Regions from separate parts of the Homo sapiens genome. Here regions 2 and 3 are each reported to be linked to region 1. Evidence: microRNA targets listed by miRTarBase, many of them from high-throughput screens and not tested one by one. Region 1 holds a microRNA gene; each other region holds the end of a gene's coding sequence.

What was found. Region 1 holds the annotated microRNA hsa-miR-1-3p (UGGAAUGUAAAGAAGUAUGUAU, at 6,013-6,034, shown strand). A microRNA usually pairs through its seed, bases 2 to 8, with sites in the 3' UTR of a target mRNA and lowers its output. Matches are read on the target gene's strand: a 7mer-m8 pairs with bases 2 to 8, a 7mer-A1 pairs with bases 2 to 7 and ends in A, and an 8mer does both.
Region 2: the mRNA of RPP40 is a reported target of hsa-miR-1-3p. The part of its 3' UTR that is shown has no 7-base or 8-base seed match.
Region 3: the mRNA of XPNPEP3 is a reported target of hsa-miR-1-3p. Seed matches in the 3' UTR shown: 7mer-A1 at 1,243-1,249 and 7mer-A1 at 1,444-1,450.

The regions. Positions count from the first base shown.
Region 1 is chr20:62,548,339-62,556,433 of GRCh38, forward strand. MIR1-1 (microRNA 1-1) reads left to right here and starts at 5,968; the gene lies at 5,968-6,038. CRMA (cardiomyocyte maturation associated lncRNA) reads right to left here and starts at 3,223. Exons shown (of 7, transcript NR_033263.1): 1 at 3,088-3,223; 2 at 1-123. MIR1-1HG (MIR1-1 host gene) reads left to right here and starts at 2,115. Exons shown (of 4, transcript NR_171007.1): 1 at 2,115-2,700; 2 at 5,127-5,327. RefSeq lists an enhancer at 2,202-3,077.
Region 2 is chr6:4,988,656-4,996,750 of GRCh38, reverse strand. It overlaps RPP40 (ribonuclease P/MRP subunit p40), which reads left to right. Exons shown (of 8, transcript NM_006638.4): 6 at 331-529; 7 at 666-800; 8 at 1,475-2,034. The coding sequence ends at 1,673. Among named protein-coding and RNA genes, the nearest start is that of LYRM4-AS1, 11 kb to the left of the region's middle.
Region 3 is chr22:40,925,295-40,933,389 of GRCh38, forward strand. XPNPEP3 (X-prolyl aminopeptidase 3) reads left to right here. Exons shown (of 10, transcript NM_022098.4): 10 at 975-7,521. The coding sequence ends at 1,141. Among named protein-coding and RNA genes, the nearest start is that of RBX1, 22 kb to the right of the region's middle.

The sequences.
Region 1 (8,095 bases):
GTGGGGACAGCAAAATGCTCTCCTCTTAGGGATGCCTTGAGTGCAGCATAGAGCCCCTGCAGAAGCTTCTGGAACACCAGGCAGCCTAAGTGCTGTGTGCCGGCTGTTACTGTGAGGCTGGTGCTATGGGTAAACGGGGGAACTGCTCTGTCTTCTGGCTCTGTCCTACGGCCTGGGGGCTGTCAGATCTGGCCACCCACACCAGCCCTTCTCCTGGAAGGAGATGGCCCTGTGCCCGTGCCCTGGTCCGTGGGTGTGGGGCTGCCGTGAGGAGGGTGATTTATGGCCACGTCTGCTGCATACCCTCTCTCTCACCACCACAAAGCACCCGCATCCTTTACAGAGCCGCCTGCCCAGGCCTGCAGACTGCTCCCCACCTCCCCCATTGTGGCTGTCTATGCCCCTGACCCCAGCTGCAGGCCTGGCCTGCCCCCCTCAACCCTGCCTGGAGACGGCAGGCAGGAGGAAGTGGGCTGCAGGGGAGGGGCCTTGCAGGGGGAGTTTGGACACCACACCTCACACCACGCTCTCCCGCTGCCAGTGGGAAGCCGAGTGGCTATTTAGTTTCCAGAAAAGTGCTCAGACCAGGTAGAAGCTTAAAACCTCCTGGCCTCCTTTATGGTGAGACATGGGGTCTTTAGCGGGGCGTACAGGGCTGGGAGAAGGGCCTGGCATCACTCAAGAAGCCTCTGCACTGGGCAGGTGCAGGGGGCGTCCCTCTGTCCCTCGCTGTCGCTGGCCGGAGGACACCAGAGTGGGTGTCGGCGTGTGTGGCGAGTGTGGCTGGGGCTCCGGCTTCTCCCCATGACTCTGCAGAGCCGGCCTTGGGATGTGGGGAAGGGGCCGTGAGCCCAGGAGGTGAACCTGGAGGAGAGCCCTGCCTCAGCTCCTGTGGGCCAGCCTGGGGGGTGTGCAGGCTCCTCAGGGGCTCCCCTGGGATTAGATGCAGCTGAGCCTGTTCTGAGCGGCATAGACTCCCCGGCCCTGTGTCCCTAACTGGCCAGAACCACAAGGGGATGCCTTCCTAAGTCCGGGAGGCACTGGGGACATTTATGAGGTGGCTTCTGAACAGGAGGACCTATGCTCTGGACAGGACTCACAAATACCAAAGCTCATTGTCCCCATCACACGGGCCTGTGCCTGCCACCAACGAGCGGGGTCCCCGGACCACTGTGGTCCACTGTCATTCCACGACCTGGTCCCCAGTCCTGTGGGGCCCCAGAGAGATGGGACGACCAGCCAGCGTCACACAGCCTGTGAGGACAGTCTGCCAGTTCAGGCCTCTGGTCTCTGCGTCCAGGCCCTGCAAGGACAGATCCCCGTCAGGCCCCGTCCCAGGCCCTCGTCTGTTACATAATTCGGGCGTGAAATCCCGGAAGGGGGAGCTCCTGAGCCCGTCCAGCACCCGGGATTGGGGTCTCCCCATCACACACCCTTGGTGGCAGGGCCTGGCTGGGGGCGGCAAGCAGGTTGACCTTGCCTCTGTCCAAGGCGACTGGCATTTGTCATGACTTGGGGTTGGCTTGAGAGTCTCCGGAAACCCAGGTGGCTCTGTCACCACCTGATCCTGGCCCCAATTCTAGGCAAAAGGGCAGAGCCGATGGGACTGTGGAGGGGGCCACCCACTCCTGGTGGCCTGGGTGGGCTCAGCCCACTGGAGGCTCAGAGCAGCGAAGGAGGCCGTACCATTCTGCCCGCCCCCCCCACCCCCGGCCCTGCAGCCTGGGAGATGCCCGGGTCTCCCCAGGGCACCCTAGGAGCCGGCTGGCATGGCATGGAGGCTGCTGCCCGGCTACTGAGGAGGCGCCTCTGTACTGGCTGGGCTAAAAATAGCGGGGGGATCTCGGGCAGGGACAGCCGGTGGGAGGCCTGTCAGGGAGGGGCCGGGAGGGGCAGGACAGCAGCCTGAGCCCGGGACCCGCCGTCAATGGCGTGGGTGCTCCCACCCTGTTCCCGGTGGCCGGGCCAGCCGCGGCCCAGCTGACAGGCTATTTTTTCCCCTGCTTGACTAAATATGGTCAGGGAGCGCAGCCCGAGGGGGCCACTTGGCCAGGGCCGCGTGTTTGGGATGCTTGGCCGGGTATATAAGAACTGCAAAGGTGAGGCCGGCTCCTGACCCGAGGGGGGCCCCCACGCCCGCTCTGGCCTCTCAGGTCAGGCCCTCCCCTCCCCTCCCCTCCCCTCCCCCGCCCCTGTGTCTCCGCGAGCCGGCTGTGTGCCTGCGAGAGCGTGCACACCCGCGGGACCTTCCCTTTTGTTCCACCCTGACCTCTACCTTCTCTACCTTGTGCTGACCCCGCTGGGGTGCAGGGGTTCCCTTCGGAGGAGGCCGGGGCTCAAGGTGTGCAGCTCGGCCGCCTCTCCCTAACTCTGCACCAGCGCCTTCTCTCTCTCTCTCTCTCTCTCTCTCTCTCTCTCTCTCTCTCAAGATCTCCCTCCTGCTAAGTCTGCGCTGCTGCAGGAGGGCTGGGGGAAGGGCAGGGGTGTGGAGAGGGGGTGCCTGGTGTCTTCTTTCTCTCTCTGCCCCCACCAAGTGCGGACGCATCGAGCTTCGGCCCCCACCCCTGCATTCGCGATTGGCTCCCGGAGGAGGTGGCTGGTGCTGCCGCCGCTGCAGCATCTCCTAGGGAGCCGCGACCCTGCGCCCGCCGCCGCTGCCGCTGTCACCAGCCCGGCCCCAGGGGTGCCCTGGGCTCCGCGGTGAGTCCTGCTCAGCCCATCACCACCGCTGGGCCGCCGGGACGGCCCCTGCAAACTTGCCGGGCACCGCGGTGGGGGGTGTGCCTGCCAGCGAGGTGGGTGCTGCGGGTGCCGGCGCCGTGCGGCTCCGGCGGGGGTGCCGTGGAGTTTTCTCTTGGCTCGCGGCATCATCCACATTTGGAAAACTGCAGAGCCAGCAGCCGGCAGGGCCTGGAGGGCGCGTCCAGCTGGGAGGCAGGAACTTTGACTTGCGGGCATTTTGCAAGAAAGCAGCGGCCCCCCACGCGGGCAGTGGATGGCATGGGGGCTTCGGGGCTGGGCTGGGGGCGCGATTCACCTGCCGCTCCGCAACAAAGCCCCGGCAGCCGGGCGTGGGGCTAAACTTACCTTGAACTTGCAGTATCCCCCACTGAGGTGCTGGTGGGGGGCAGGGATTCCCGAGCTGAGCGGCGGCGAGGCTGCCCCCGGCCGGGACTCGGCACTTCTGCAGCTCTCCCAGCCACGTCAGGGTCAGGAGGCGTTTACAGGGGCAGGGCGGCGAGGTGGGGGGCGGGGGGCACATGTGGGCGGAGACTAGGGGGGCTTCGGGGAGAGCAGCCCTGGTGGTCGGCGTCTGTGCAGGTCCCTGCTGGGGAGCTTGACTTCCCGCGTGGCCTCCCGCGGCGCTGATGCCGGGGGCCGGGCGGTATTCACCGCTGAAGAGCCCCGGAGGAGGCCCCGGGCACAGGAGCCAGCTCGGCTCACGGTGGGGTCTGCTTGGAGGCGGCTGGGTGCTCTTTTTCTATGCAGACGGGAAACTTTTTGAAAAGTGACTACAATTCATTTGTGAGTGGGCAGAAGTCCTGTGGACTCTGGCTGGGTCTGGGGTGACTCTCCTGCCCTTTGGGACTCCCAGCTTTCCCCTTGACCCCCAGACCCCGTCCAGATGAATGCCTCACAGGTCGTGGGGGCTTGAGCCAGGCTGCGGGAGTGTCCCAGGCTCTGAGAGCTCATGTGCCAGGGAGCTGGGGACGTTGAGGAGGCCTTTTCCCTGGACTCCGGGGACGGTTATTGCGGAGGTCTTGGGAGGGCACAGATGAGCGGCGGAACCCAGGTGCCCCCGAAGTTGAAGCTCAGGCTGCGGTGTCGGGTGCCCTTTTTGTATCCTTGGCTACGTGAAAATGATAAATCACAGCAGCTACGTGGAAATGGGACATCAGCTTCTGCTTCTGTCTGCCATTTGCTCCTTCCTTTGTAGAGGGGATGCCTCCAGAGCCTTAAGCACAACCCCCACCCCCCGCCCCCACCCACCCCCACGTGAAACTCCAACCCAGCCATGCCCAGCTGCAGACCCACTGCCACACAGCCACAGCATGCTCAGTGGCCTCTGCACACTGCAGGCTCTGCGGAGACATTGCCCTGCCCTGGGTGGTAAGAGAGAACCAACTCGCTCCGGGCTGTCCCCTCGCATGGACGGGCTGCCTGGAGGAGCAACAGAGTCATGTTGGACCTCTCTTCCTGATGAGGACAACGGGAGGTCCTTTCATGTCCCGGGGCTGCTGTCCCACCCCACGCCAGGGTCAGTGGCAGGACAGGGGCCAGGGCCCAGCTGGACCCCACCGCTTAGCAAGCCTCCTGTGTCTGTGCCCGGCCTGCACCCCCAACTGGCGCCTCCCTGGCCCCCGTCCCCCCCAGGCACCTGCAAAGCCTTCTTTCCACCTCTCACCACCGCACGTGCCAGGCTCGCCCTGGGCCACTGCGAGGCCTCGAAACCCTGCAGGCCTCCTCCTCCTCCTCCTCCTCCTCTCCCCGCTCCCAGCAGGTTCGGGGCGGCTTCCCTTCCTGCTGGTGAGGGCCTAACCTTGAGGTCCCATTGGTCTCCTTCTGGCTCTTTCTCCACATTTTTCAGAGTCTGGCTTCACGGCTGGTCATAGAAGTTGGCAGGGAAGGAGGCAGCCTCTGCTTCCCACTCAGAGACATTTTTAAACGCAATGAAAAACATATCGATACAATTAAGTATTCCAAAGTGCTTAGTTTGCCACTCGCTAAGTTTACTTAAACCCTCTTTAACAGGCTCATTAGGAGCTGGTGAGCACCGGGAAATTCATTAACAGGAAGGCGGCCCCCTGCATTTGACTGTAAATTGGTATTGATCAGGGGCTGGTGGAGGCTGGGCGGCTGGCCACAAAGAGCCAGGTGTGGGACCAGCCTCCCGGGGGTGCCACGGCAGTGGCGCTGGGCAGGTGACGGTGGCTGCTGACCCCCGGTGCCCATGTAAGCTGCTGGCTCTGCGCAGCTGCCGCTTCAGGTGGGCCGCACTGCGCGGCGGTTCAGGGTGGTGACGCTGCGAGGCGGGGACGGGGGAGAGGGTGAAGAAGAGCGAGAGAAGGAGGGAGAGAACCGGGGGAGCGACGCTCCCTCGCCCACTGGGTGTCTGCTGTGGCCAGGCTGAGGCACCTAGGGAGTTGCCCCCCTAGTGGACGGCCTCTCAGGAGATCCTGACCACCCTCTGGGAACCTGGACTCCTCCAAGCATCGTCTTTCTCGCCTGCATCTTCGGAGAGAGGTGCTGAGCCCTTCCTCATGGATACGGGGTCCCGGGAGGCAGCCTTCACCAGGGACCTGCCCAGGAAACCAGCAGATGCCCAGGTAAGCCCCCAGGACACCTCTCGGGTCTCTGGTCTGCAGTTCCTCGTCTGGCCTCAGGAGCAAGGAGTTGTCCAGCTCCCGGAGAAGGAGGAGGCTGGTCCTGCGAGTGGGGTGCTGGGCAGGGCGCCCCCCAAGGTTCCTCTCTCCACCCAGCCCTCTCTGGGCTTGGCTGGGATGAGGTGACCCAGGGGGACAGGAAAGTGTTGGCTTTGAAAGTTTGGGACATGGATGATGCCTCCCTGCTCTGGGGTGAGGGTGGAGGGGCAGCCTGTCTCTTCCATGGACGCAAAACCGAGCTACTGCTGGGGCCAGGGACAGGCGCTCGAGACTTTCTGGGGCTCACTGTCCACTTCTGCCTTTCTGGATCGTGTGAGTGTGTGAGACAGACAGAGAGAGATGGATTCAGGGATGGAGGGGCGCCGAGGTCAGAAGGGGGCAGGGAGTCCTGGGCCCCTGGGGGTGGCTGGACACCAGGCAGCAGTGGCAGGAAGGCTGTCCTGCTCACACAGAGAGGGCTCCGGCAGTAGACTCCAGGGAAGAAGTTACACTGCCTCTGAGCTGCCTTCTCTACATCGCAGTGGGGTCAGCTTCTACCGGGGCGGCGTCCCGGGGTCTTGGAACTGCATGCAGACTGCCTGCTTGGGAAACATACTTCTTTATATGCCCATATGGACCTGCTAAGCTATGGAATGTAAAGAAGTATGTATCTCAGGCCGGGACCTCTCTCGCCGCACTGAGGGGCACTCCACACCACGGGGGCCGCCGCGGCCGACAGCCAGCCAGGCGGCTGTGGTGGGGGTGAGGCTGGGGCGGCAGGCTGCCTGGGCGTTGGTGGACGGTCGTGTCCCCGCCAGCATTGTTCTGTCACTTTGCCTGTGTCAGCAGGTGGAAGTGCTCACCAGACATTAAATATTCAGCTTGCTGACTGCGGCAGAGGGGAGGCGGCCTCCGGCAGGCGCGGGGTCCAGCGCGGGGCTGGTGAGGGCTGGGGGGTCGGGGCCGTGGCTGGAAAGCACGGAGTGGTGGCGGCGGCTCTGGGGGCTCCACTGATGGCCATCCTGGAAGAGGCCATCAGCCGGCAGAAAGGGCCACGTGTGGCCAGGGCAGAAACTGCTCAGAGGCACAAGACAAGAGCGAGTTTGGAAAAGGGCAGGTGGCTGGATGCAGAAAGGAGGGAGAGGCTGGGCAGCACATGGTAGAGTCTGCGGAGGGAAGGCACCTCCTGCACCTGCATCCAGCCCTCCCGGCTGTAGGGCAAGGCAGAGGAACTCGGAGGCATGTAGCCTCCAAGGAAGGCGCAGCCCACACGAGATGCTGGGGACGCGGGCAGGGTCAGGGCCACCACTGCCCTTAGGCCCCACTCCTCTGCCGAGGGCACCTGGGACAGGGTCAGAGGAGCTGAGTCTGTGCAGCCCTGAACCCACAGCCCACCCCAGGGGCCTGGGAGCCGTTCGATTTTGCCAAATGTCTGGTTCATGCCGCCCCAACCTGTACCCCCACCAAAGCCCCGGTTCAGCTTTCTCTCTGTTCCGCCGAATCCAACCTGAGGCATGTTTTGCTGTGAATGCAGGTGAGGCTTTGGCAGAAAGCAGCGTGTGGCCCAGGGCCCCTTGCCCCACCTGTCGGGGGCCTGAGAGCCATCTGCTCTGCCGCCATCCCAGTCCTGACCCGAGAAAGGACTGGGAGGATGTCCTGGGGCCCAGGGGATGAGGGCAGGTCCGGATCCGTCCGTGAAACCCTTTTCCCCAGTGCTGGTCCTTCAAGGAGAGGATGGGCGGCGGGTTCTGGGGTCTTAGGCAGCGGCTGGGCTGCTGTGTGAGGGGCGTTTGCCCGGCTCGTTTCTGAGTCTCAGATTGGAGGCGTTTGCCACCTGGGATGAGGCCAGGTCCCTGCCTGGGCACCCCCACCCTGCCACAGGCCTCAGGATTAATTTCTGGGGTGTGTGTCCTCTCTGCCTTGGCACTGCTCCAGCCACAGCGGTGCCCCTGTGCCCTACCTCCCGCACCCTGGCCTTCGGCAGGAATGAGGCGGGAAGGGACAGGCAGGCAGCCCCCTCCTGCAGCGGCTGGAGGCCTTGGGTCTGGGGGCAGCCAGGTCACCTGAGCAGCTGGGGCCAGCATAGGGAGCGCTGGATAAAGGGATTGGGGGCCGTTCTGAGCTTTCAGGTGGCTCCCACCCCTCAGGGAGCCTCGAGGTGACTGGAGGGGAGGGCCTGGCAGTCAGGGCTCCTGGCCTTCAGGTCTTCCTTCTGGAAACTTCGTTCTCCCAGCCTCAGCCCCATCTGGCGTAGCAGCAAGGGGGCGGGTGTTGACCTCGGGCACAGCCTCCTCTCGGCCTCTGGACCCGGAGGGTCAGTGCCCAGCATCCGCTGACGTCATCTCTTCCCTGCCTGCTCCCAGCTCCGGCCACAGGGAGGGAAGTAGCCGGGCGTGTGGCCACCGAGGCTGCCGGTGGCCACAGACACACCGTTCTTTTCCCCTAGATGCGGCTGTTGTACATTAAAGCTTTATTGCAGGATGTGGTGTTTAAATAAAAGCATTAGTGTTTTGGAATTAGGTTTGACTGAGCAGTAAAACTGGAGAGTTCACAGGGAGAGAGCTGCGGCCTGCTTGGCGGTAAATCACCTCCAGTCTCTGATCTGCTGAATTAAAAATGAGCATTGCACGGACACCGCCCATGGCAGCCCGAGCCCCTCTCCCCTGCACGTGTGGCCTGATGGTGCTCCCTGGGGATCCTGCTGCTTTCCTGGAGACACTGGGACCCGGGGC
Region 2 (8,095 bases), not on the chromosome of region 1:
CACTAATATTATTCATACATCAGGAATGCTTTTGGTTTTAAGTGTGAAGTTGAAATTTTTTTATTAGCACAAACAGTGAAACTAGTTTGGGTCTGATCAGAAACTGTTGTGCTTTTCCAGGAAAAGTGTGAAAAACGATGAACGTTTACAGAACTTGAGCAAAAGGAGCTGAAAGCAGCTTTAAATGATTTTAATTTGAATGCAGCTCTGCACAGCTTCCATCTTACTCAATCTTACCGCTCAGATGGGAATGGGTGGGTTCAGGTATTCACTAAACTTGCTTACGATGGTCAGATGGATTCAAATGGCCTTGTGTGGTGTGTTTTTAAGGTTCAGAAGAATCGACAATGATGTCATATTTTTCCAAGTACCAAATTCAGGAGCATCAGCCAAAAGTAGCACTGAGCACGTTGAGAGATCTCCAGTGCCCAGTGCTGCAGAGCAGCGAGCTGGAGGGAACGCCAGAGGTGTCCTGCCGGGCTCTGGAGCTCTTCGACTGGCTCGGCGCCGTCTTCAGTAATGTCGACCTGTGGGTATCTGAACTCCCTGTGTCTTCCAGGGCTCTGGCCTGCTGCTTGTTTTTAATAGGAGTTTAATACTTTGGAAGTGATCATGTGATGGATATACATGTGTTATCTCTCTCTCTTTTATTTTTTTGGTGACAGAAATAATGAGCCTAATAATTTCATATCAACCTATTGCTGTCCTGAGCCAAGCACAGTGGTGGCAAAAGCTTATTTGTGTACAATCACTGGCTTCATACTTCCAGAGAAGATCTGTCTCCTATTGGAACATCTCTGGTGAGAACTCTTTACCTTTTATATCGCTCATCAGTGCTCTATAGAACAGTATGTCGAATAGTATAGATTTTTTCATTTTGGGAGGTGGTATATAAATAAAATGTACATTGAAAGGAACTCAAATCGCCTATTGCAAAGACCGTACATTGAGTATAATCCTATTTAGTAAGCATATCTTCTCAGTCTTCCCTTTTGAAATGTCAGATTTAAGTCTTGAAGGTTTTCCTTTTTAAGCCCAACATCCTTTTTCACATTTATTGGTTTAGTACTTTGACTTTCTTCGATAGGAAGGCTGGATATGAAAAATCTGGTGAATTATCCTGCAACGTTTCAGTTAACTGAGACTCTGAGAACAGTACTCTTAATAGGAGGGAAAGGATCCTTAAACGCCTGTGGGGTTTTTTGTTTTGGGTTCTTTTTGTCTTAAAGACCTCCCAGAATGAGGGTGGGAACAGCTGAGGTTTGTTTCATGTGTTGTATATTAGTTAATCCTTATGGAGTTCACAGTGTGACATCAGGAACTTATCACACACCTCTTGATTTTCAAAAATTAAAGCTAAGATCTAAGCTTTATTAGAATATCAGAAATACTACTTATCCTGAATAAATTTTTTAAAATGCAGACATTCCTAACTCTCTTTTAAAACTCTGTTTAACAACTACCTTTTTTTCAGTCACTACTTTGATGAACCGAAGTTAGCTCCATGGGTTACACTGTCCGTTCAAGGCTTTGCAGACAGCCCTGTTTCTTGGGAAAAAAATGAACATGGTTTTCGAAAAGGAGGAGAACATTTATATAACTTTGTGATTTTTAATAATCAGGACTATTGGCTTCAGATGGCTGTTGGGGCAAATGATCACTGTCCACCATAAAAAATAAAAATTAAAAATCGTGTTTACTTACATTTACGCTTGCTTTCAGATTTCTTAATGGTAAAAGGTCTGTGTGTCCACTCAGGCTTGTGTGATGGTGACATTTCTCAGATCAGCATTTGCTGGCATCCTGCCCTGCACCTGAGACCCATCTGTGATGGCAGCAAGGCCTGCTGTCCAGTGAATAGCTCATAGTTGATTTCTCTCTGTCAACATAAGCACAGGGTTGTGGGTTACTATGTGGTACACTGGGCCAGGATGTCCAGGGACCGGGGATATTGGTCCCCATCTCACTCCATTGGTTGAGATATATTTTGTTCATTACAACTTTTTCAGATAATAAAAAGAAATCTCATCCTTACCAGGGCCAGTCCCTGTTGTAAGTGCTGTTTATATATTACCATGTTAGAATCTCACACCAACCCTTTGAGGAAACTGAGGCACAGTGTGTAAATACACTACCGAAGTTATAGTGGCAGTGGACCTGAGACTTGATCTCAGGCCAGCCTAGTTCCTAAGTGTGTTCTCACGCTAATGCCTCTGGATCAGAGAGGGATCAATGGATACTGTAAATCGTTACAGAACAGGTTGAAAGAATTTTATTTCCAGCAGTAAGGCTGATAAGGACCAGTTGAAAACAACTAAAACTTTAGAATACATATGAAGAACCATTTTTTTTTTATTATACTTTAAGTTTTAGGGTACATGTGCACAACGTGCAGGTTAGTTACATATGTATACATGTGCCATGTTGGTGTGCTGCATCCATTAACTCATCATTTAACATTAGGTATATCTCCTAATGCTCTCCCTCCCCCCTCCCCCCACCCCACAACAGGCCCCGGTGTGTGATGTTCCCCTTCCTGTGTCCATGTGTTCTCATTGTTCAATTCCCACCTATGAGTGAAAACATGCGGTGTTTGGTTTTTTGTCTGAAGAACCATTTTTTTAATGTAAAAAACAAGAGCTGCAAAATAAGAGTTCTTAAAGGGAAAAAAAAATTTTTTTTTTTGTAAATGGAAGCAGAAACCCAAAGAAGTAAGTGGAGTACTGACGCCACTTTTCCGCCTTAGTGCATCTGCCAAATGCCAAATTGAAGTTTTCTTCTCATAGCCTGGGGTGGGAAGGGGCTGCAGAACAGCACACAAAGCTCAGGGCCTGCCCAAGGGAGGAAAACTAACAGGAGACCTCATAAAGTGAGACTCCAAAAGGATAGATGCAATGTAGGGGTAAACTAGGAATAAATCCATCTGCTTCACCCATCCCCCCAACCCCTGTGAACAGCAAGGAAGATTTCTGTCCTGGGGGAAAACATCTTACTTGAGAGCCTATATATAACCACAGGATTTATATATAACAGCAGTTTTTAGGGTGGCTTGTTTGCACCACCTGGATAGTCTTAAAAAATCTCAAGAGGGAAATTTCAAGTGATAACAGGATTTTACTGCCTTACAGGTAACTGGCAGAAGCAAAACAGATTGTCTTTGGAGGAACTCGGAGAGTTTCAAGGAATGTAAGTTCATAGAAAAAAATCACAAGTGTAAAATAGACAAGAACCAGCAGAAACAAGGGGCAGAAGCAGGCCGTTAAGTCTCAGAAAGACTTAAGATGTTAAAGTTAGCAAGCACATCCATAAAGTATGCTTTATGCTTACAGAAATAAGGAGGGTTAAATGGCATGAGTATAAGAACAACGAAGCAGATTGTAAAAAGTGCCAAACAAATCTAGGAATGAAAAATATAATTGAAATTGCAAATTCCACTGGTTGGTTTAACAGCAGACTAGACGCCACTGAAAATAGAATAATGGATATGAAGAAATTAAGATCTTTTCAAATTTGCAAAAGCTGAAAGACTGTCACCCACAGGTCTGCACTGCAAGAAAAGTTAAAGGATGTCCTTTGGGCAGAAGGAAAATGCCTGCCTTCTGAAGGAAATAAGCACTGGAAATAGTAACAACATGGGTAAATGTAGCATTTATTATTTAAACCTCTTTAAAAGACAGTTATTTAAATAAAAGTCATAGTGTAGGATTTATAATATATGTAAGAGTAAAATGGATGACCACAATAGCTTGAAGATTAGGAGAGGAGAATCATGCTATTGTAAAGTTCTCATACACAAGGTGACGTGCTACCATTTGAAGATAGAGTGTGATAAGTTACAGATATGTGCTGTAAACCCTAAAGCAGCTGCTAAAATGACATACCAAAAAATCATACCTATTAAACTATCAAAAGATAAAATGGAATTATTTTAAAAACTTGATTCATCAAAAAGAAGACAGAAAAAGAGGTAAAAGGGAATAAAGAACAGTTAGGATGAATCGAAGACAAGTAGCAAGATGAGAGACTCAACCTAAGCATATCAATAATCACATTAAATGTGAATAGTGTGAACACCACCAATTAAAAGGCATAGATTTTCAGACTGGATTGAAAAAAACATGACCTAATTATATTCTGCCTACAAGAAATGTACTTTAAATAGAAAGATACAAATACTTAAAGGATGGAAAAAAGATATGCTAACACTAGTTACATGAAAATTGAAGTGGCTATATTAATCAAAATAGAGCAAAAAGTAATTCCCAGCATATTAGTCAATTCTCGCACTGCCATAAAGAAATATCTGAGACTGGGTAGCTTATAAAGAAAAGAGGTTTAATTGGCTCACATTTCTTCTTCTTCTTTTTTTTTTTTTTTTTTTTGAGACAGAGCCTCCCTCTGTTGCCCAGGATGGACTGCAGTGGCGCAATCTCGGCTCACTGCAACCTCCACCTCCTGGGTTCAAATGATTCTCCTGCCTCAGCCTCTTGAGTAGCTGGGATTACAGGCATGCGCCACCATGCCTGGCTAGTTTTTTTTTGTTTCGTTTTTTTGTTTTTGTTTGTTTTTCTTTTTTTAGTAGAAACAGGGTTTCACCTTATTGGCCAGGCTGGTCTCGAACTCCTGACCTCGTGATCTCTCCACCTCAGCCTCCCAAAGTGCTGGGATTACAGGCATGGGCCACCACACCTGGCCTAATTGGCTCACGTTTCTGCAGGCTGTGCAGGAAGCACAGTGGGCATCTGCCTGGCTTCTGGGGAGGCCTCAGGAAAACTCAATCATGGCGGAAGGTGAAAGAGAAGCATGGCCAGAGCAGGAGGGAGGGGTGTGGGAGGTACCACACACTTTTAAACAACCAGATCTTGTGAGAATTCTATCACTAGAAGAGCACTAAATGGGGGAATCCACCCCCATGAGCCAATCACCTCCCACCAGGCCCCAACTCCAACACTGGGGATTACAATTTGACATGAGATTTGGGCAGGGACACAGACCCAAACCGTATCACCCAGGATTAAAGAAAGTTATTTCATACTGACAACACACACCTCATAACAAAGCTTCAAAACACATAAAGCAAGAACAACTAGAACTTCAAGGAGACATAGATCAACCCACTATTATCAGACGTTAATACCCCACCCTCAATAATTGACAGAACAAGTAGGCAGAAAATCAATAAGAATAATAAAGTAGACTTCAGCAATTTTATCAATCAACTTGACCCGATTGACATTTACAGGACATTGCATCTTACAATAGCAGAAAATTTTTCTTGAGAAAATGGAGAAACAACTCAATTTTGTTTCTTGAGAAATAACTTGAGAAAAATTTTTAGCTGTTCAAACAAAAATCATAGTACGGGATTTATAATATATGTAAAAGTAAAGTGGGTTAAGAGTTTTTCGCAAGTACACATGGAACATTTATAGAGATGGACTACATTATAGACCATTTAAAAAGTCTCAAATTCAAAACATTTGTCACATAAAGTATGTTGTCTGGCCACAACGGAATTAAATTAGAAATCAATAGCAGAAACTAGAAAAGAGAAAAACTCAAAGTAAGCAGAAGAAAAGGAATAATAAAGGTCAAAGTGGGACTTAATGAAATTTTTAAAATAGAGAAAAATGAATGAATCAAAATTTGGGGAGTTTGGGGGGGAAATTTTTTTAAATTGAGAAATCTCCAGCCAGGTACATATATCAGGGAAAAAAGAAACAAGACACAAGTTACCAATACTAGGAATGAGAGAGGTGGCATCACTGAAGAGCCTACAGATAGAAAAGGATAGTAAGGAAATATTAGGAACACCTTTATAGCAATAAATTCAACATAGATGAAATTGACAAATCCTTTGAAAGGCACAAATTACCAAAGCTCACCCAAGAAGAAGTAGATGATCTGAATAGCCCTATATCTGTTAAAGAAGTTGAAATTACAGTTTAAAAACATGTAACGAAAATCTAGGGCTAGGCGTGGTGGCTCGCACCTGTATTCCCAGCATGTTGGGAAGTTGAGGTGGGAGGATCACTTGAAGCCAGGAGTTCAAGGACAGACTGGACAACATAGCGAGATTCCAAAAAAAAAAAAAAAAAAATTAGCCAGGCATGGTAGCACATGCCTGTAGTCCTAGCTACTTGAGAGGCTGAGGCAGGATGATTGCTTGAGCCTAGGAATTGAAGGCTGCGGTGAGCAATGATCACACCACTGCACTCCAGCCTGGCTGACAAATCAAGGCCCTGACTCAAAGAAAGGGAGAGAAGGAGAGAGAGAGGAAGAAATATTTTCCACCTCATTATCTGAGGCCAGAATTATCCTAGTGCCAAAATTATCCTAGGACCCTGGCCAAACAAACATGCTACCAGGAAAGAAAACTACAGATCAACATTTCTCATGAACATAGGGTAAAATTCTAAGCCAGTTTATCAAATTGAGTCCTACAAGATAAGAAACAGGTAATAAAACATGATCAAGAGGGAATATCCAAGGAGTGTAGGGTTGACTTAACATTTGAAAAATCAATCAATATAATTCATTGTATAAACAAGCTAAAAAAGAATAATCATATAATCAATCAATACAGAAAGGCATTTGACAAAATCCAGCATTCATTACTGATAATCAAGAAGGTTAGGAATAAACAACACTTCTTCAATCTGATCAAGGGCATCTACAAAAACCCTACAGCTAACATCACACTTAATTGTGAAAGACAATATTCCCCACCTTCCCAACGTCAGGAACAAATCAGGGATGCCTGCTTTTACCGCCTCTGTTCAACATTGTACTGAAGGCTTTAGACTGTGCAATCAGAGAACAAACAGAAATAATGGACATCCAGGTTGGAAAGAAAGAAAGAAAAATGTATTCACAGATGACATGATTATTTATGCAAAATTCAGCGGACTCTACAAATGAGCTACTAGAACAAATAAGTGAGTTTGTCAAGGTTGCAGGATACAGAGTAGTGTACAAAAATCAGTTGTATATGGTAGCAATGAAAAATTGATAATTGAAACAAAAAATCAACATTTGCAATCACATAAACAATACTACCTTTGCAATAGCATAAATACCTGGGATAAGTCTGACCAAAAAAATGAGAAAAATACTGTACACTGAAAACTACAAAATACTGATATGATAAAGAGACCTAAATAGATGATATACCTTGTTCATGGGTCAGAAGACTCAATATTGTGAAGATGTCATGTCATATTCCCAAAATATAGATTCAATATAGATTTAATACAATCACAATCAAAATCCCAGCAGCCTATGTGTGTGTGTGTGTGTGTGTAAAATGACAAACTGATTCTAAAATGTTTGTAGAACTTCAAAGGACCTAGAGTAGCCAAACAACTTCACAAAAGAAGAACCAAGTTAGACGACTAATATTACTAGATTTTTAAGGAGTTATTCTAAAGCAACAGTAATCAAGACAGTGTGGTATTGACATGAAGGATATACCAATAGATCAATGATATAGGATTTGTGTCCAGAATGTAAAGTACTTTCAAAACTCAGCAATAAGAAAACAAACAAACCAAATGGAAAATGAAGGAAAGACATCAACAGACATTTTACCAAAGAGTCCACTTAAACTGCAAATAAATGAGTGAAAAGATGTTCTAACATCATTAACCATTAGGAAAAAGGCAACTTAAAATCATGATATCACTAACTCCTATTAGAATGGTTACAAAGGCAAATTAAAATCATGATATCACTAACTCCTATTAGAATGGTAAAAGATAGTGATAACATCAAATTCTGACAACTATGCTGAAAAACTTTATCTCCCGTATATTACTGGCAGTAATGTATAATTTCACAGCCATTCAGAAAAATACCTCCCAGTTTACTTATAAAAGAAAACATGAAATTACCATATGATCCAGTAATTTCACTCTTGGGCATTTATCCTGGGAAATGAACTTATGTTCACACAAAAACCCATACTCAAATGTTCATAGCAGCTTTATGTGTAATGAGCAAGACCTAGGAAAAAAACAAATGTCCTTCAGTGCGTGAATGGTTAAGCAAATTGTGATCCATGAAATACTGCTTAACAATAAAAAGGAGCAAGTTA
Region 3 (8,095 bases), not on the chromosome of region 1:
AGCAGTGACCACAATGGTGTGTGAAGATTGATGTTGTCAGAGTTGATGGTTAAATACTGATGCTGGTTTTGTTTTGAAAACAGATCTAAATTTTAGATTTCAAGTATTTTAATCTCTGTATAAATTATGGCTGTGAAATGTCTTTTATGCCACCCTTTGAACCTAGTCATACATTGCTATCTGTGGCCATAGATATATCATTTAGTTCAATCTGTTTGGTACATGGGCGCTTCCTTAGACTGCGCTACATTTTCCTTTGCTGATCTTTCTTTTTCAATCGCAGAGCAGTATCTGTGAGGATAGTGGAGGAAGTTTACAACTTGTTTAATATAAAAAGCCCTGGTATGTGTCTAACTTCATGATTAGAAAGGGTACCTGGGGTTCCTACATTTTTCCAAATGTACATTAAAGTCTTTCAGTTTCTCTTGTATTTTATATTACACACATCAGATATATTTAAATCTTATAATGACTGTCTCTGCAGCTTCCAGTTGTCAAGGCTAATAATCTCTAAATGTTTCTTTGAATACAGTTTAAATATATTTTGTCTTTATTTTTGCAAGGTGCTCTTTTTCCAAGGGACTCTTAGGCAGGGGAAGAATGCACTTACATAATCTGCTTGTCCCCCACATATATTGACGTACTTTTAAATTAAGTAACTTTATTGGCCTGCTTGAGCCACTAGAATATGACAGAATCATGATCAGCATTGCCGTAGTTGTATTTAGCTTGTAGTCCAATATAAAGATAACCACAATAATAATTTTAGTAATGATACCAACATGTGTTGACCATTATATGCCAGCCACTTTGACATGTATTATCTCATTTAATCCTCACAGCTTTACTAGGTAGGTACCATAAAGATCCAGTATTACAGAGGAAGGAATTTTAACCCAGAGGTTAACTTACTTGCCCCAAACCACCCAGTTACTATCATTCCTGAACAGCATGTTCTTCTTTCTACTTCACAGGCATTTATATTCCAGAGGATGACAAAGATGCCCCAGAGAAGTTTCGGGGTCTTGGTGTACGAATTGAGGATGATGTAGTGGTGACTCAGGACTCACCTCTCATCCTTTCTGCAGACTGTCCCAAAGAGATGAATGACATTGAACAGATATGCAGCCAGGCTTCTTGACCTTCACTGCGGCCCACATGCACCTCAGGTTCAAAATGGGTGTCTTCTGGCAGCCCTGCACGTGTGCTTTCTGAGTGTCTCTGTGTGTGCATTAATATATGCATTCCATTTGGGAGCATAGCAGCTGTGTGAATGTATGTAATTGTGTGTGGGGGGTTTTTTGTTTTAAGTAGTTAGAAGTCTGGGAAAATGAATTTTTGAATAGTATGTTACTGCAGCTTTGGTAACATTAATTCTATAGAATTAATGATCAGAGCAAGTTTAATTTTTAAACATAAAGGTCTTGGTTACACATGTCCATGCATTCCAGTTAACACATTTAAACATATAGAAAATTCACTTCTTCTTTCAAGTCCTTCCCTTTCTATACTTTTGCTGAGATCAACCCAATATCATAAGAAGTTTGTGTGATGCCTGTATTTTTAGCTAATTACCAAGGTCTCTGCCTATGCAAAAATTCATCTTTCGGTGATTGTGGGCGGCCAATACATACCTTCTGTAACTCCTCCCTACCTATTCTAGATCCTGCATATCTACTGGAGCCATATGAGCCCTCAGGGGCACTGGTGTCCTGCAGTCTTACTAGTCAGCCACAGTCCAGGTTCCAGCAACACTAGCTACCTACCAAACAAAACACTTCTGAGCTTTTCTTGCCATTTGGTTGCCTGGGACCTGGAAAGTGTTTAGATTCTTGATAAAGATGGAAATGGAAGAGAAAGAAAATTATATATGTATATACTAAAGATCCAGACATCAGGGCTGGGCACAGCGGTTCCGCCTGTAATCCCAGCACTTTGGGAGGTCCAGGCAGGTGGATCTCTTGAGACCAGGAGGTCAAGACCAGCCTGGCCAACGTGGTGAAACACTGTCTCTACTAAAAATACAAAAATGAGCTGGGTGTGATGATACATGCCTGTAATCCTGGCTACTTGGGAGGCTGAGGCATGAGAATTGCTTGAACCTGGGAGGTGGAGGTTGCAGTGAGCTGAGCTCATGCGACTGCACTCCAGCCTGGGTGACTGAGCAAGACTCTGCCTCAAAAAAACAAATAAATAAATAAAATCCTGACATCCTGCCATCTTTTCTCTTCAATTTAAAGTTGATTTCTTAATGATGACTTCAAAAATTAATAAAAAGAAAAGAAAAAAATGATTTCTGGCCGGGCGTGGTGGCTCAAGCCTGTAATCCCAGCACTTTGGGAGGCCGAGGTGGGCGGATCACGAGGTCAGGAGATTGAGACCTCCTGGCTAACACGGTGAAACCCCGTCTTTACTAAAAATACAAAAAAAATTAGCTGGGCGTGGTGGCGGATGCCTGTAGTCCCAGCTACTCAGGAGGCTGAGGCAGGAGAATGGCGTGAACCCAGAAGGCAGAGCTTGCAGTGAGCCAAGATCGCGCCACTGCACTCCAGCCTGGGTGACAGAGCGAGACTCCGTCTCAAAAAAAAAAAAAAAAAAGAAAAAAAAAAGAAAGATTTCTTTCGCAGATATCCCTGCTCCCTCTATAGATTCTTAATGCACTGACCCTCACAGGTTACCCTTTTAGCTGTTGTGCTGCGCAGGAGCAGATCCTCTACTTACGTACCCTGTCAGAGTCACAGTAGTAGCGCCCAGTTTTCAGAGAAGTACCCCTGTTATCATTCTGTGATTTCCTCTAGTGCTAATAGAAACAAAATATGGAATCTACCAAGTACCCGTAAATATCCTATGATTCTTATCTTTCTTTGATACTAGCACTGGGAGTGCAGTGGTAAAGAGTCATACTTCTTTTTTTTTTTTTTTTTTGGAGACAGAGTCTCGCTCTGTCGCCTGGGCTGGATGGAGTGCAGTGGCGTAATCTCAGCTCACTACAACCTCCACCACCTGGGTTCAGGCAATTCTCCTGCCTCAGCCTCCCAAGTAACTGGGACTACAGGTGCACGCTGCCATGCCCAGCTAATTTTTTGTATTTTAGTAGAGACAGGGTTTCACCCTGTTGCCCAGGCCGGTCTCAAACTCCTGAGCTCCGGCAATCCGCCCACCTCAGCCTCCCAAAGTGCTAGGATTACAGGCATGAGCCACTGCGCCCGGTGTAAGAGTCATATTTTTTTAAACACAAACATTGGATACAATTATACAGCAACTCAGTTTGCAAGATGAACAGGGCTAGATTACCACAGATAGCTTATTTAGGAGCGTCTGTGATAGAGGGAAGCTTTAAGAACCAGTGTGTTCACCTCCTTTAAACCTGGATATGAGGTCAAGATGTATAAAACATGCCAATTGTTAGAACACAAATTTGAGGGTTTCTTAAAAAAACAATTTGTATTAGGGAAGCACAAGCTAGGGGATTAACAATCTCTGTAATGCTGGAAGTTTGCCTATCTTATCAGGGAAACCCAGGGTACAGAGTGAAAAGCAGACAGGCAGTGACTTCCTCAAGAGACAGATAATGTGAAAACAAAAGTGATACAAATCATATCCTGACAGTGCTAGCCTAGGAATGCCTGGCTTTGCGCACCTTATCTAAGCAGCTCTCAGAATGGAGGCTGCACAGCTGGAGTCTCCATCCCCCATACCCACCTTCCCACCTCCCTCCAATTTCTCAATCCAGAGCTTTTTAAAAAAAGGGGAGGGAAATAACTCCACAGCTCTGGCTGCTCACTTCCCAGGCTCTGTGCCCCCAACAGCCCTTTCCTTGGATTGTGTTTCCTTTGTTCATTTGTAATCCAGGAATAAGGAATTTCCTTTTCTTCTTGTATCATTTTCTTTTCTTTTCTTTTTTTTTTTTTTTTTGAGACGGAGTCTCACACTGTCACCGGGGCTGGTGTGCAATAGCGAGACCTCAGCTCCCTGCAACCTCCATCTCCCAGGTTCAAGCGATTCTCCTGCCTCAGCCTCCCGAATAGCTAGGAATACAGGCGCCTGCCACCACACCCGGCTATTTTTTTGTATTTTAAATAGAGACGAGGTTTCACTGTGTTGGCCAGGCTGGTCTCGAACTCCTGACCTCATGATCTGCCCGCCTCGGCCTCCCTAAGTGCTGCGATTACAGACGTGAGCCACCGCACCTCCTGTATCATTTTCTATGGTCTAAACTTTTCTAGCTAAAAGCCTAGGTAGCTTGTATGTATAGCAGCATACTTGGACATGAAACACACTTCTGGTTAGATTCCAGTCAAGTTCTATAGGTGTTATTGGTAGGCAGAAAGGCTGTTGTAGAATTCTTCTGGTGATTTTCAGTCCCTGACCCAGGTATATTGTCCTTTGAGTCCCAGATTAACTAACTATAGCAGCTAAGCATTTGAATCAGACTTCTCATAGCAATGTTATGGGCTGTCTGATATATTCAGGATTTGTTGAGCAGATAAGCTGTGTGTGATCTTACTCATTCTCAGCCATGCCGCAGACATACCCATTTCCCTTTAGTAATTTTTTAATACAGAGAATGCTATTAACTGTTACTGGATATCAAATAATTTTATTTTTCTAATAGTATTTTCCAAATATTTCTTAAAATTCTTAAAATTTAGGTTAAAGTTTGCTGGTCTCTTACATTTAATAAAGCTGGGACTTGAAGACTTACCATAGTTTTCAACTGCCTTTGCAAGTTCATAAACTTCTAAGGGTAAAAAGTGAATAAGATAAATTCAGAGTTTTAAGGTAAAGGCTTTATATTAGCTTTTTTTTTTTTTAAAGGTTTTTTGTGGGGTTTTTTTGTTTTTTTTTTTTTTGAGATGGAGTCTCGCTCTGTCACCCAGGCTGGAGTGCAGTGGCACGATCTTGGCTCACTGCAACCTCCATCTCCCGGGTTCAGGCAATTCTTCTGCCTCAGCCTCCTGAGTAGCTGGGACTACAGGCGCGTGCCACCATGCCCGGCTAGTTTATTGTATTTTTAGTAGAGATGGGGTTTTACTGTGTTAGCCAGGATGGTCTCAATCTCCTGACCTCATAATCTGCCCACCTCAGCCTCCCAAAGTGCTGGGATTACAGGCGTGAGCCACTGCACCCAGCCTTTTTAAAGTTTTTAATTGACATATAATTGTACGTATTTACAGGGTAAATAATGATGTTTTGATACATATATAATGATCAGATCAGAACAATTAGCATATCCATCACATTGAACATTTATCATTTATTTGTGTTGAGCCTTTAGTTCTTTTTTTTTTTTGAGATAGAGTCTCACTCTGTCACCCAGGCTGGAGTACAGTGGTGTGATCTTGGCTCACTGCAACCTCCACCCACCGGCTTCAACCAATTCTCCTGCCTCAGCCTCCCTAGTAACTGGGATTACAGGCACCTGCCACCACACCCAATTTTTGTATTTTTAGTAGAGACGGGGTTTCACCATCTTGGCCAGGCCAGGCTGGTCTTGATCTCCTGACCTTGTGATCCACCCACCTCAGCTTCCCAAACTGCTGGGATTACAGGCATGAGCCACGGCCCCCAGCCAGAGACAGTCTTGCTTTGTCGCCAGGCTGGAGTGTAGTGGCGCCATCTTGGCTCACTGCAACCTCCAACTCCCTGGTTCAAGCAGTTCTCCTGCCTCAGCCTCCCAAGTAGCTGGGATTACAGGCACGCACCACCATGCCCAGCTAATTTTTGTATTTTTAGTAGAGACAGGGTTTCACCATGTTGGCCAGGATGGTCTTGATCTCCTGACCTCGTGATCTGCCCACTTTGGCCTCCCAAAGTGCTGGGATTACAGGTGTGAGCCACCGTGCCCAGCCGAGCCTTTAGTTCTAAGTATAATAAATAATATATATACCAGGCATTCCTATTAAAAATCTTAACTTAAAAAAAATTACTCAAATGTTACTACTGGAATTTTTCTCCCTGAATTGAAGATACATGGTTAGATCATTAACAATACCACCTAAATGAAGGAAACATATCTGGATATCCAGTGTCACATACTTTTATGTATTTATTTCAGGAATTACTATTTTGTCACCATAATTAGGAAACAGACTGTGTTCTTTATTTGAAACACAACAGTATAAATACTATAGTAAAGTTGGGTGCAGTGGATCACAGCTATAATCCCAGCACTTTGGGAGACCAAGGAGGGATGGTCACTTGAGCCCAGGAGTTTGAGACCAGCCTAGGCAACATAGAGAGACCTTGTCTCAACAAAAAAATTTAAAGTTAGCCAGGTGTGGTGGTTTGCACCTATAGTCCCAGCTACTCAGGAGGCTGAGGTGGGAGGATCGCTTGAGCTTAGGAGGTCAAGGCTGCAGTGAGCCATGATTGTGCCACTTCACCCTGGGCAACAGAGAAAGACCCTGTCTCAATAAAAAAGAAGAGAAAAACTGGAGTGAGAACTCTCCTCCTCTCATAATCATAGTATCCACGTTAGGAAAATGCTTCTGAGAGTAACTTAAAGTACTGTGTGTGCATCTTCCTTCAAAACCTTGCTTTTTTCTCCGTTTTTGTAAGGTGAGAAAGGGAAAAACCTTCACCGTAGAAATACTGTCTTGAGATTAAGATACAAATAAAACATGTTAAACCTCCATCTAAAGACATTGCAACTTATTAAAACAGAAAAATGTACCTTTGTTATGTCTTTCCAAATATCCACACCCACACCCTGTTCAGCTTTGTTAATAATACAGAGATCAGAAATGTGAAGCACAAATGCTGCTTCTCCCCCTCCTGTTCCCATGTCAGAGATGGAGAAGAAAGCACAGTGAGCTGTTCACCAGTCCAGCGGTGACCTCGGAGTCCTTTGTAACAGTGTTTCCAATAACTTCTGCCAATAAAACAGAATTTGAGTTAGAACCTATCTGCTGTCCCTCAACTAGTGTCTGATAGCTGAGAATGTAATTCGTTTGTGTGTCTATTAGAAAATTAGGCAGGCACCACAGACAGTAGCAACATAAAGGAACCTGCTTAGAAGAGGTTTTTATGGTGTGATTGTGTTTTTTTTTTTTTAATTTTTGTTTCCTGAAGTAGAATCCATAGCTCAAAACAAGTTTTAAGCCTGAGAAAATATAATTTGAGGTGTTTTTTATGCTCCTAATGAAAAGATGAATGAATGCATCATTAAACCTTAACAGTAGAGCAGAATTTCACTGTTACAAACCACATGGGTTCTCCTGGTTGTGCTGCTGTTCTCTACCTGTGTGTCACTGAGTTTGAGCATCATTATTGTTTGAATCAGAGGACCCACTGGAATCAAGGCTTCTTGGAATTGCGCAAGAATCTGAGAAAACTTCAATCTTTACCAGCATTTCTTAATGCTTTCCATGACTTTTGTGCAATTATATAAGTTCAGTTTAGACAAAATGCTGTTACTTTTTAAGGCATTACTAATAACTGAAAATAGTTACGTCATTGCCCATCAAGGGAAAAGCACTTGTAACTGTCATTTAAAAAAAATAAAACTATAAAACAATATAGAGGGGTATGGTGTGTGTGTGTTACTTTAGAATCTAGAGTTTACGGTCTATTTAGTATAAACAGTATAAACGTGAGACCATCTGGTTTTACAAAATAATTTACAAAGTATTCATTAGCTGCTGTCACAAAATCATGATAGCAAACTTGAAATGATTTTATCAGTCTTATAGAGGAAGAATCTGGTGGATTTGATCCAGCCTATTAAAAGGTTGGCACAAAACTGACTGAAAGGTCTCCAGAAAGTCCCCATAACACTCAAGACTGTAAACTGTAGCCATGCACATTTTATGAAGGATGAATTTTGTGGGGAAATAGGATCAAGTTGCAAAATTATGAATATTTGACCTTTGTCAACCATATAATGAATCGTAAGTGTAGCCATCTCTCTCTCCCTGTTAGGAACCATCTTTAAAATCTGAGACTGTCTATGAGGAGTACCTTTAACATTTCTCACGTTCTGGCAGGCACAAAAAGATACTTTGTATGGCACAATGGAACAAATTTGAGGGGGCTGAGTGGTAAGTACATATGACTTGTAGAAAAAAAATTATTATACATCCTTTAACTATGA